2 separate regions of the Homo sapiens genome follow, and region 1 is reported to be linked to region 2. The links are microRNA targets in miRTarBase. Many come from high-throughput screens and were not tested one by one. Region 2 holds a microRNA gene; the other region holds the end of a gene's coding sequence.
The links. The annotated mature microRNA hsa-miR-216a-3p reads UCACAGUGGUCUCUGGGAUUAU and lies in region 2 at 1,677-1,698, shown strand. An mRNA with a match to its seed (bases 2 to 7 or 8) in the 3' UTR can be bound and repressed. Matches are read on the target gene's strand: a 7mer-m8 pairs with bases 2 to 8, a 7mer-A1 pairs with bases 2 to 7 and ends in A, and an 8mer does both.

Region 1: the mRNA of BEX3 is a reported target of hsa-miR-216a-3p. Seed matches in the 3' UTR shown: 7mer-A1 at 4,455-4,461.

Annotation. Positions count from the first base shown.
Region 1 is chrX:103,377,242-103,382,314 of GRCh38, reverse strand. It overlaps BEX3 (brain expressed X-linked 3), which reads right to left. Exons shown (of 3, transcript NM_206917.3): 3 at 4,151-4,805. The coding sequence starts at 4,793. The coding sequence ends at 4,488. Among named protein-coding and RNA genes, the nearest start is that of BEX3, 3.2 kb to the right of the region's middle.
Region 2 is chr2:55,985,606-55,990,678 of GRCh38, reverse strand. MIR216A (microRNA 216a) reads left to right here and starts at 1,620; the gene lies at 1,620-1,729. The region is part of intron 2 of MIR217HG (MIR217 host gene); the gene reads left to right. All of the region lies in intron 3 of LOC105374690 (a long non-coding RNA gene), which reads right to left.

The sequences.
Region 1 (5,073 bases), not on the chromosome of region 2:
AAACATGCTAATTGTGACTTTTCAAATGTCTGGCAAAAATTTTTTAAAAATTAGATTTTCAAGTTTATAGGGATGCCTTATTTATTGGGTTATGTATAGTTATATCACTTAGAAAGCATTCCAGCTGGTTACACATGAAATATTGACTACATAACATGCTATCTTTCTGAAATTTAAAAACTGGACTTTTCCAAACAAAATCAGTATATTTACTACATAATACATGTGATGTCAGGAAAGGAGACAGAGTAGACGTGGAATTTTGTCCATTTCATTTATAAAACTCAAAACTTTTTCTACTTCTAAGACAATTTTTAAGTTTCGTAAATAAATAGTTCTGTTCTAGTAAATAAATATATTTACTTTATATTTCTAAATTTGCCAAAATACATTTCAAAATTGAACTAGTTTCAGTCCCACCAACAGTGTAAAAGTGTTCCTATTTCTCCACATCCTCTCCAGCACCTGTTGTTTCCTGACTTTTTAATGATCGCCATTCTAACTGGTGTGAGATGGTATCTCATTGTGGTTTTGATTTGCATTTCTCTGATGGCCAGTGATGGTGAGCATTTTTTCATGTGTTGTTTGGCTGCATAAATGTCTTCTTTTGAGAAGTGCCTGTTCATGTCCTTCGCCCACTTTTTGATGGGGTTGTTTGTTTTTTTCTTGTAAATTTGTTTGAGTTCATTGTAGATTCTGGATATTAGCCCTTTGTCAGATGAGTAGGTTGTGAAAATTTTCTCCCATTTTGTAGGTTGCCTGTTCACTCAGGGATCTAGAACTAGAAATACCATTTGACCCAGCCATCCCATTACTGGGTATATACCCAAAGGACTATAAATCATGCAGCTATAAAGACACATGCACACGTATGTTTATTGCGGCACTATTCACAATAGCAAAGACTTGGAACCAACCCAAATGTCCAACAATGATAGACTGGATTAAGAAAATGTGGCACATATACACCATGGAATACCATGCAGCCATCAAAAATGATAAGTTCATGTCCTTTGTAGGGACATGGATGAAATTGGAAATCATCATTCTCAGTAAACTATCGCAAGAACAAAAAACCAAACACCGCATATTCTCACTCATAGGTGGGAACTGAACAATGAGAACACATGGACACAGGAAGGGGAACATCACACTCTGGGGACTGTTGTGGGGTGGGGGGAGAGGGGAGGGATAGCATTGGGAGATATACCTAATGCTAGATGACGAGTTAGTGGGTGCAGCGCACCAGCATGGCACATGTATACATATGTAACTAACCTGCACATTGTGCACATGTACCCTAAAACTTAAAGTATAATAATAATAAAATAAAATAAATAAAATAAAATAAAAAAAGAAAGTAATCACTAAGGATTTAAAGGAAAAGGAATTGATTTTTTTTAATGCAGACATGATGAGAACTTTATAAGACAAACATTGTTGTAGTTTTTCAAGATAGAAAAAAATACATTTCAAAATTGGACATTAGATCACTGTGAGTGGACTTCTGAAATGTGATGGCTTGAGTTTTGAAAATCAGGAGCTAACTGAAAGCTGATCAAATGAGTCAATCAGCTTTGATAAGTGGAGAGGAGAGATTAGAAAAATAGTAACAAACATGGCAAGCTAAACATATTTCTTTGGCAGGGGCTTTGAAAGAGGCAGTGTTCCTCATAAGAGGCTCTAAGCCTAGCTTTGTCATGATAAAATATAAGATGAAGATTTAAAAACTTACAAATGGTATCTTTGGATGACTGGATTACGGTTTTGTTTATATTCTCCCTATATTCATGATCCAAATATGTATGATGACATTATATAAATAATTATAAGAAGTACTAACATTTTAAAATGTTCTTTATAGAAATTTCAAAATACGAAAGCATTAAAAAAAACTCCACAGGCTCAAAAATGTTGTTATATATTGTTTTAGATAAACTACAATCCTGAAATAATTTAATAATTAATTAGTAAATGAATTATTATGTTATGAAACATCTACTATATTAGGCACTGTGCTAGAAACTGAGCTCCAGGGAGACTAAAACAAAATCATTGTTGTGAAAGGGCACAGGTTGGCACAGAAATGATAATGCATAATTTATTTAATAATTTCATAATTATTACATTTATTATTAATAATAAATTCATGATAAAGCATTAGTTTAATAGGATATTTGAAAAGAAGATAAAACAGTACTGGTTTAAGTATAAACATACATTGATGGCCTAATGTCTAATTTTGGAATGCTGTACTTTGGAAACGTATATGCATTGTGGAATCAAGTAAGTAAGGTAATTTGGATCACGAAATTTGTAAAATGGTGTAATTACTGTCAGTGTTTCTCTATGCCTATGTTGTCAAAACTCAGATGCATGAGAATCACTTGGGAAACTGTCAAAATAGTAATTCCTGATTCTGGTGATTCAGGTGGTCACAGTGGCTGGTTGGGGGTGGGACGAGCACCCAACTGTCAACATTTTTAACACTTTCCCTAGGTAATTATGATGCACGTAAGGCGTCTATGTTTCCCTAAACACTAACATATACAAGGTTTAAAAAAAAGTTTACAGAATTTGAGTTAGAAACTTTCCTTGCTATGTTCCTTTGGAAATAATATAATGCTTTCCACATAACTAGTTACTTGCCTTTGGCCCCTTAGTTAAGGATAGTGAGTTAGGGACAGTTTTGAGCTGGATTTCTAACTCTTAGTTAATTAATCAATCAAAATAATTAATAATTTAATATCTACTATGTCGGGCACTATACCAGAAACTGTCTGGAGAAAAGGGCACACACTCACAAAGAAATAACAATGCCAAATACTTAATATAGTTTTTAAGAACTTACAGAGTAGTTTCATGGTTCAGGTATGGACAAGAAGGGAGTGTGTTTCCGCTTTAAAGAAAATTTGTTCTCCCAATGTAATTTACATGTCTAGGTAAGTCTGTTAAACTGGGTGGGCAGGCCTGCCAAGAGTCTCCTTTGAGAAAATCCGTATCAAGGATAGAAACACAGGCACAAATAAAGCCTTCAGCCTGTTTGTATTGTGGAGGTTTGCAGTAATGCAATTCAGGGCACACTCAGATGCATTTTCTCAGTTAGGCCGCAGTGCACTCTTGTCTGAGTTATTTGAAGGAGTTATGAAAGAAAACCAGAAAGGGCTATTTTTCTAAGAACCAATGTAATCCCAAGAACCACAAGAGTTGTACTCACCAGGATAAATATAACTCTCAAGTTATAAAGACATTCTCCACAATTCTATAGAGGTCAAAGGGGGATTTGGCTCACCAGAGACTCCAGAGAAATCAGTGGGGCTTGTTACCTTGAAGACCCTAGCACCTCATCAACAGCAACAGAAATAGGATCCAGCAGAAGGGAAAGTGTGGCCAATCAAGAAGGCAGTAATCAGGGGAGCAGGAGGATTGCAAATAACAAGAATGATATGGGGGAACCCACCTATTTTCACTGTCTGGACTTGTAAACATGAGTGATAATTCCTCCAGTCCTAAGTACCTGATGGGGGTCCCGGTCCTGTTAAATGTTGGGGAGTTGGGGACAGAAGCCAGCCCAACACAGTTCCACATTTCATCAGTTCCACTCAGCAGCCCTGTAAGACAAGCATTGTTCCCCATTTCACAGAGCAGAAAACGGGCTCTTTAAAGGAATGCATCTGTAATAAAGGGAAGGTTTATTATTCCAGTTAAGACTGAAGGATAGTTAGAGTTTACTCTTCAAATTTGTTGAGCCAGTATTGTTACGTATCTGCACTACATTCATAATCTCATTGAAAAATAATTTTCATTGCTTCTCAAACTCCAGATAATAAAAGGAAAAAAATGTCACATATTACTTTTTTTTTTTTGAGACTGTCTGGCTCTGTCGTCCAGGCTGGAGTGCAGTGGCGTGATCTCGGCTCACTGCAACCTCCGCCTTCCGGGTTCAAGCCATTCTCCTGCCTCAGCCTCCCGAGTAGCTGGGATTACAGGCGTGTGCCATCACGACCGGCTAATTTTTTGTATTTTTTTTTCAGTAGAGACAGGGTTTCACCGTGTTAGCCAGGATGGTCTCGATCTCCTGACCTCGTGATCTGCCTACCTTAGCCTCCCAAAGTGCTGGGATTAGTTAACACACAGAAATGTTCACCAATTAACACTCTAGTGTATTTAATCTCAGATTTTTTTTTAGTTCATCTGTTATATGTAAGTATACATTTTTAATGAGACAATAAATGTATAGATTGCTTTTTAAATTGCTTTATTAGCTTTAAATTTTTCCATGCAAATGGGTGAAACTACTGCTGACAGAAACTTACACTGAGTGCAAAGGCAATCTTCAAATAGAAGCTGGCAACACAAGACCCACTTGACACATGGAAATAACATAGGGTTCACAGCAAACGGATCAGTAAAGGCATATTAGGAAAATGCAAGGAAAAAGAAAACAGCGGGAATCACAGTATTAATCTCATGATAAATGGCAGGAGTCAAGGCATAAGGCAAAATTCATCATGATGGTCATGGTGATTAGAGAGCTCCCCCATAAGGATACGCAGACAATTCCTCAACTGCAGCTCCCTAAGTTTTCTTCTGATTTCTCTCATCTCCTCCATGAATATTTCCATATCATCTCCATCTCCACCCATCCCATCATTGATCTGCCTATTGGGTATGGCCCATCGAAAATTAGGGGCAAGTCGGCGAGCCTGTCCCCGTCGATTTCCTGCAGGCTGGTGGCCTTCACCTCCTCCCAAAGGGCGGTCTTCCTCTCCATTCTGCATAGGCTGCTCCATCTCTTCGTTTTCCTGGTGAATATTTGCCATGATGAGATTTTTTTTTTCTGGTTGTTTTTCTTTGAACACAAGTAAGACAAAGGCAAGGAGAGAGACTGAATGCTTGGTGCTCTGACCAGCAGGATTCAGAGCCCTGATATCAAAGGATTTTTTAATTTCGTTTTTTCCCACCTTAGAAGTTCCGCGCGTCCTCTACGGGGCCTCCAATTAAAGCCCCTCCCTCCAGCTTTCTCCCCTTACCTCCCTTCCCCCAAACCCACCATTTTTCGTTTCCCGGGAT
Region 2 (5,073 bases):
TTAAACTTTCTAGAGAGAAAGGAAAATCAAATATAAGATTAAGAGAAAAGAAAAAACTGAACGTCATTCATGTTGCTCTGAGAAGCCCTTGTTTTTTGATTAAGATAAAATCTGCTTATTTTTAATCCTGAGCAATTTGACTCCAGAAAATAAACTTAGAACAATATTTAAAAAGTTAAATCCTAATGATGAGACATTCTTATTTTACAAAAGTAGCTTTGTACTTAGGAGTCCATATGAGGCACAAGATTATATTCAATTGTTCTTTCTCAATTGTTTTGTAACTTTATATTTACCTGACTTTTAAAACGAAAAGCCACTTTTCTAACTCTGTAAATTACCACTCTCTTAATTGTGTCAAGTCTCAATTATTAAAGGACAAGTTATGAGCTGAAATCCATAATTCTTTGCTTCAACAAACATTTGATTTAGTTTGACAAAATTTTTTTGAGCACTTATTAAACATCAGATGCTAAACTGAGAATAGTATAGTTGAGGATATAGAGATGAATAAGCACAGTGCCAACACTTGGAAGTTTGCAGTCAATGAAGGAGAAAGCATGTGAGTGAGAAAACACCATTGTGTATTACAGGTGCCAAAAAAGGGAGACTGGGGAGAGAAGGCAGTGTGTGATAGTTTTCAATGTGTGACTGTCACACAAGGGGGTGTGTGTGTGTGTGTGTGTGTGTGTGTGTGTGAAAGAGAGAGAGAGGAGGGAGAGAGAAAGAAGAAATAATTCCAAGTATGGGCAAACACAGCTCATTGGATTCTCAGAACTTGTTAGAGCTGGAGTCTACAATGTAGAGGAAGAAATGGTCTAGTATGAAGTGAAGCTGGAGAAAGGCAGTGGAAAATCTCCACCGAAGTGCAAATCGCAGCCACCAAAACCAGACCTACTGAATCAAAATATAGAGGTAGGTCCTGGGGATCTACATTTGTAACAAGTTTCCTATGTGCTTCTTACACTCACTCAAGTTGAGATGCCATCCACGGCAGATGGTGGGGAAACTCTGAGGGCGTTTCCTCTTCCTTCCGTTCTTAATCATTATTCTTACCATTGATTAGCCCCACCCAGTGGACTGAGGGGCTTAGATCATGGCTCAGTCTCACTTAGCCATGACAGTGATGTGGGCAAGAGGGGAGGACATACCACCATCTATGAAAGGTAATAGCCACCGCTATTGACACATCTGGCCATTTGGTGAGTATACGGTCATTACTTTTTCAACGTAATTGCTGGTTTTCTTGTCTGAGGACAAATTTTAGAGTGTTTGGCTTTGATGTTTCCAAGTTCTCTATAAAGCTTGTTTAAAAAATCATTTTTAGTGATTGGTTTTACATTCACCTGTACTCCTACTTGGCTGTTTCTTACTATATATGGATTAGAGTAAATCCTTTCTAAATGCAAAGATTATACTTTTATGACATTACATGCAATATAGCATATGCCAGAAATCTGTGAATTCAGCAAGAGGAGTAGCTTGATAATGTCGCCTCAAGAAAAATGCAGAGGGGTACATCAGGGCTTCTGCTGGTGCACTCGATGTATGAAGATGTGCTTCCACCTGAGGCAGCCACGTGCCTCTGCTCATACACTTTCTCTTGCAGGTCTAACACGGATGGCTGTGAGTTGGCTTAATCTCAGCTGGCAACTGTGAGATGTTCATACAATCCCTCACAGTGGTCTCTGGGATTATGCTAAACAGAGCAATTTCCTAGCCCTCACGAATCAAAAGACTTGCATGGCAACCAAAATTAAACACCAAATTTCTATTTCATGACCAAGACGGGGGGAAAAGTTTCGATGGTTACTGTTTCATGCTCAACCTCTTTTAATCTTAGTAAAGTCTTTTTCTAAAGTGCTGTTGTGCTGGAAAGGAAACCAGCCTTGGGAATTAATTTGCCTTTATTGGATTCGCTTGCTACTTACTGCGCTCCTTCAGTGCTACTTGGTTTTTTAAAAAATTGCAGCCAAGGGAGTTTGGGTGTTAGAAGCTGAACCCAAAATATTTTCCCTCTGAAAGCTCCTCCCACTCTCTTTGTGGGTGCTACTCCATCAAATTCCAAACAGTCTAAAAGAGGACGATCTCCTGCCAGGCCCTCCTCAAACTTCAACTCCCCAGATTATCACATTTAATCGCCCTTCCTCATTCCTTCTGTAAGTGTTTCACATTCATCTGCCCTAAATAATATTGAAATTTAGAATCAACTATGGCTTAGGCTGAGGTTGCCATGAAACTTTTGAGCTGTACCCAACTCTAATTCTCGGTGATCCCTGGAAACAGATAATCCTTTTCCATAAAAAGAATAAGAACAAATGTAATTCTTCAGGGTGAAAAATCAAGGCCAGTTATCTTCCTCATTCACCCAGTAACACAAAACAAATCAGATGAACCAAATTTATAATTAAATGTGGGATAACTTTAACAACAAAAATTATTAAAATGCTATTTCCAAGGTCTTGACTGGCACATATCCCCTCAGGTATCCTCAGAAAGAGAAGTCTGTATATCTCAGTTTGATTAAATTACATTTCTGGGCCGGGCGCAGTGGCTTACGCCTGTAATCCCAGCACTTTGGGAGGCTGAGGCAGGCGGATCATGAGGTCAGGGGATCGAGACCATCGTGGCTAACACGGTGAAACCCTGTCTCTACTAAAAATACAAAAAATTAGCTGGGCATGGTGGCGGGCACCTGTAGTCCCAGCTACTCAGGAGGCTAAGGCAGGAGAATGGAGTGAACTCAGGAGGCGGAGGTTGCAGTGAGCCAAGATTGCGCCACTGCACTCCAACCTGGGCGACAGAGCGAGACTCTGTCTCAAAAAAAAAAAAAAAAAAAATTACATTTCTGTATCAAGGCACATTAGTATGACCTATTAGATTTCCTTGCCAGAAATTGATGTTGAGCAGTAGGAGGTAAGTTTGAGAACTAGTTATTCACATACTAATAGCACAAATACTGAACCATAAGCCAGGAAATAACTTACCTCTGGTAAGGAGAGGGCTTCGTATTAATTTTCAGGACTCATTAAGGGCTCTTTTAAGCTGCTGCTGAAACTTTCTAAATGTTGTCTGTATCCTCCTGCTAGTTGAAATAATCATTTTTTCAAACATGAAAAAATTCCCAATTCCAATTTTTGGTGACCATTTTTCAAAAAGGGAAGAAGATAAATGTAATTAAACAGAGCAGGAAATATTTTTTGAAGAGCTGAGTACATATGATGCATCAGGAACCATGCTTGTTGCCTTGCTTGTGTGTACACTCAGTGCACTCTTGCAGTCTCCAGATGTTCCCAGTGCTCTCTGCACATAGAGGCACAGGGAGCTTTTGAAAATGTCAATATCAAGGGCTGTGCCACTGATAAATCAGAATGCCTGGGATGGGATCTGGGCATCTCTGTTTAAGAGGCACCCAGGGGATTGTAATGTGCAGCCAAAGGTGAGAATCACTGTATTTGAGCTCAACAGGGAAGCTGTGGTTGGAGTGCAGTGAGAAAAACTGGAAGGAGAGGATTAGAGGGTATAGCTAGGTAGACTATGGTAAGAATTTGGGGTTTTAGTGTGAGGGACTCCACAAGCAATTGGAGAGTTTTAATTAAAGAAGTGGCATGACTTATTTACCAGTAACACAGTTTAATAGACTTTTCTTAGAATCTAACCATGTATAAACTTTAAAGAAAAATAGTTATTGTGGACTGCAAATAACTTCCTTGTCATTTAACTTTAGGAATGTAAGACCACAGGATAGGCAGATTCCAACCAAGAGGAAAGCTAGTATGAAAGAACAAAAAGGAAATTAGCTCAGAAATCAGGAGCCCCAACTCCTTTAGGCAACAGCTTGAGTCACTGTTTCAAGAAAAAAAGAAAATCACTTATCCTTTCAACACATAGATTCTGACTTTTCTTTTAAAGCTTAATAATTTTAGAATTACATCCTGGTAGTAATTAGCATCAAAATAAGTGAAGGATTTGGCATCTCTGTCAATGAGACATTCAAAATATCATTTGTTAGACTGGGTTTATGCCAGTCTTCAGTAAAAATAGAGTACAACAGGATTCCCACCCTTTTAGTAAAGAGGCTCTGTCTTGCTGATGACCGAAGACCTTGTTAGGGCTCCTGGGAACTAAGTCCTCAGCATTCCTAGCTCATCATCTCATTCACCAGCACCTAGAGCGTGGCACTTATTATCCCTTTTCCACCTGTACCATGAAGACTATGAAAGTCAAGGTGCAAGCAGCCGGCCTCTTAATCAGAGCAAACAAGCAGAACCTACTGCCAGTCCGCAGGACTAGACCTTAGATGTCTGCTGAATCTGTGATCCTGAGCTTTTGTTGAAAACCTGAATTATATTTCTGCCTGGTAAAGATGGCCCCAGGCTCCAAATGTTTGTCTTCTGTGGAAATCCAGATTAGAGTTTTCTGTGGCCCTCCCCCATGCTGTACCACTAAATGATGAACACTTATTGAATGCCCAGAAAGTCCCACTTTTCCCTCCTTTGGCAGCCTGCCCTCAGCCCAACCAAAACAATAGCAAAACAAAATAAACAAAAATGGCTTCTGTTTTTAATGATCACTGCAAGATTCACCATGAAACTCCTATAGATGAGTCTCTATAACCGTCTTATCCAAGCCAGAGCTGTCTATCATTAAGGTAGAGCAGGACAGAAAGAGCTTTTCTGGTTACAGACTTAATTCTGTATCAGATAAGTCCCCTCAGGATCCGTAACCCTGCAAGGTACCCAATTTGGGCTCGTCACCTGGCATGGACATACCAGGAGGATCTCTCTGGAAAAACTCTTGAAATACCCTGGAAAGGGTGATCCTCTGCTTTTTAGTTATATTATACACACCTCAATTACTGGGAAATACTCTTCAGCATATACAATGCTCTAAAGATTGCTCAAAACTGTGACCTGAATTTTAGGATTCTGTTTTATAGTGGCCAATCTCAGTTGTATTGCTTACTATCATTTTGCATTGTCTACAGGCATGTTAGTTATATTTCCAAACTCAAGTAGTGATTAGTTGGCCAGAGAAAAGCAGAGTTTCTGTTCTGTGATTTCTCTGCGGTGA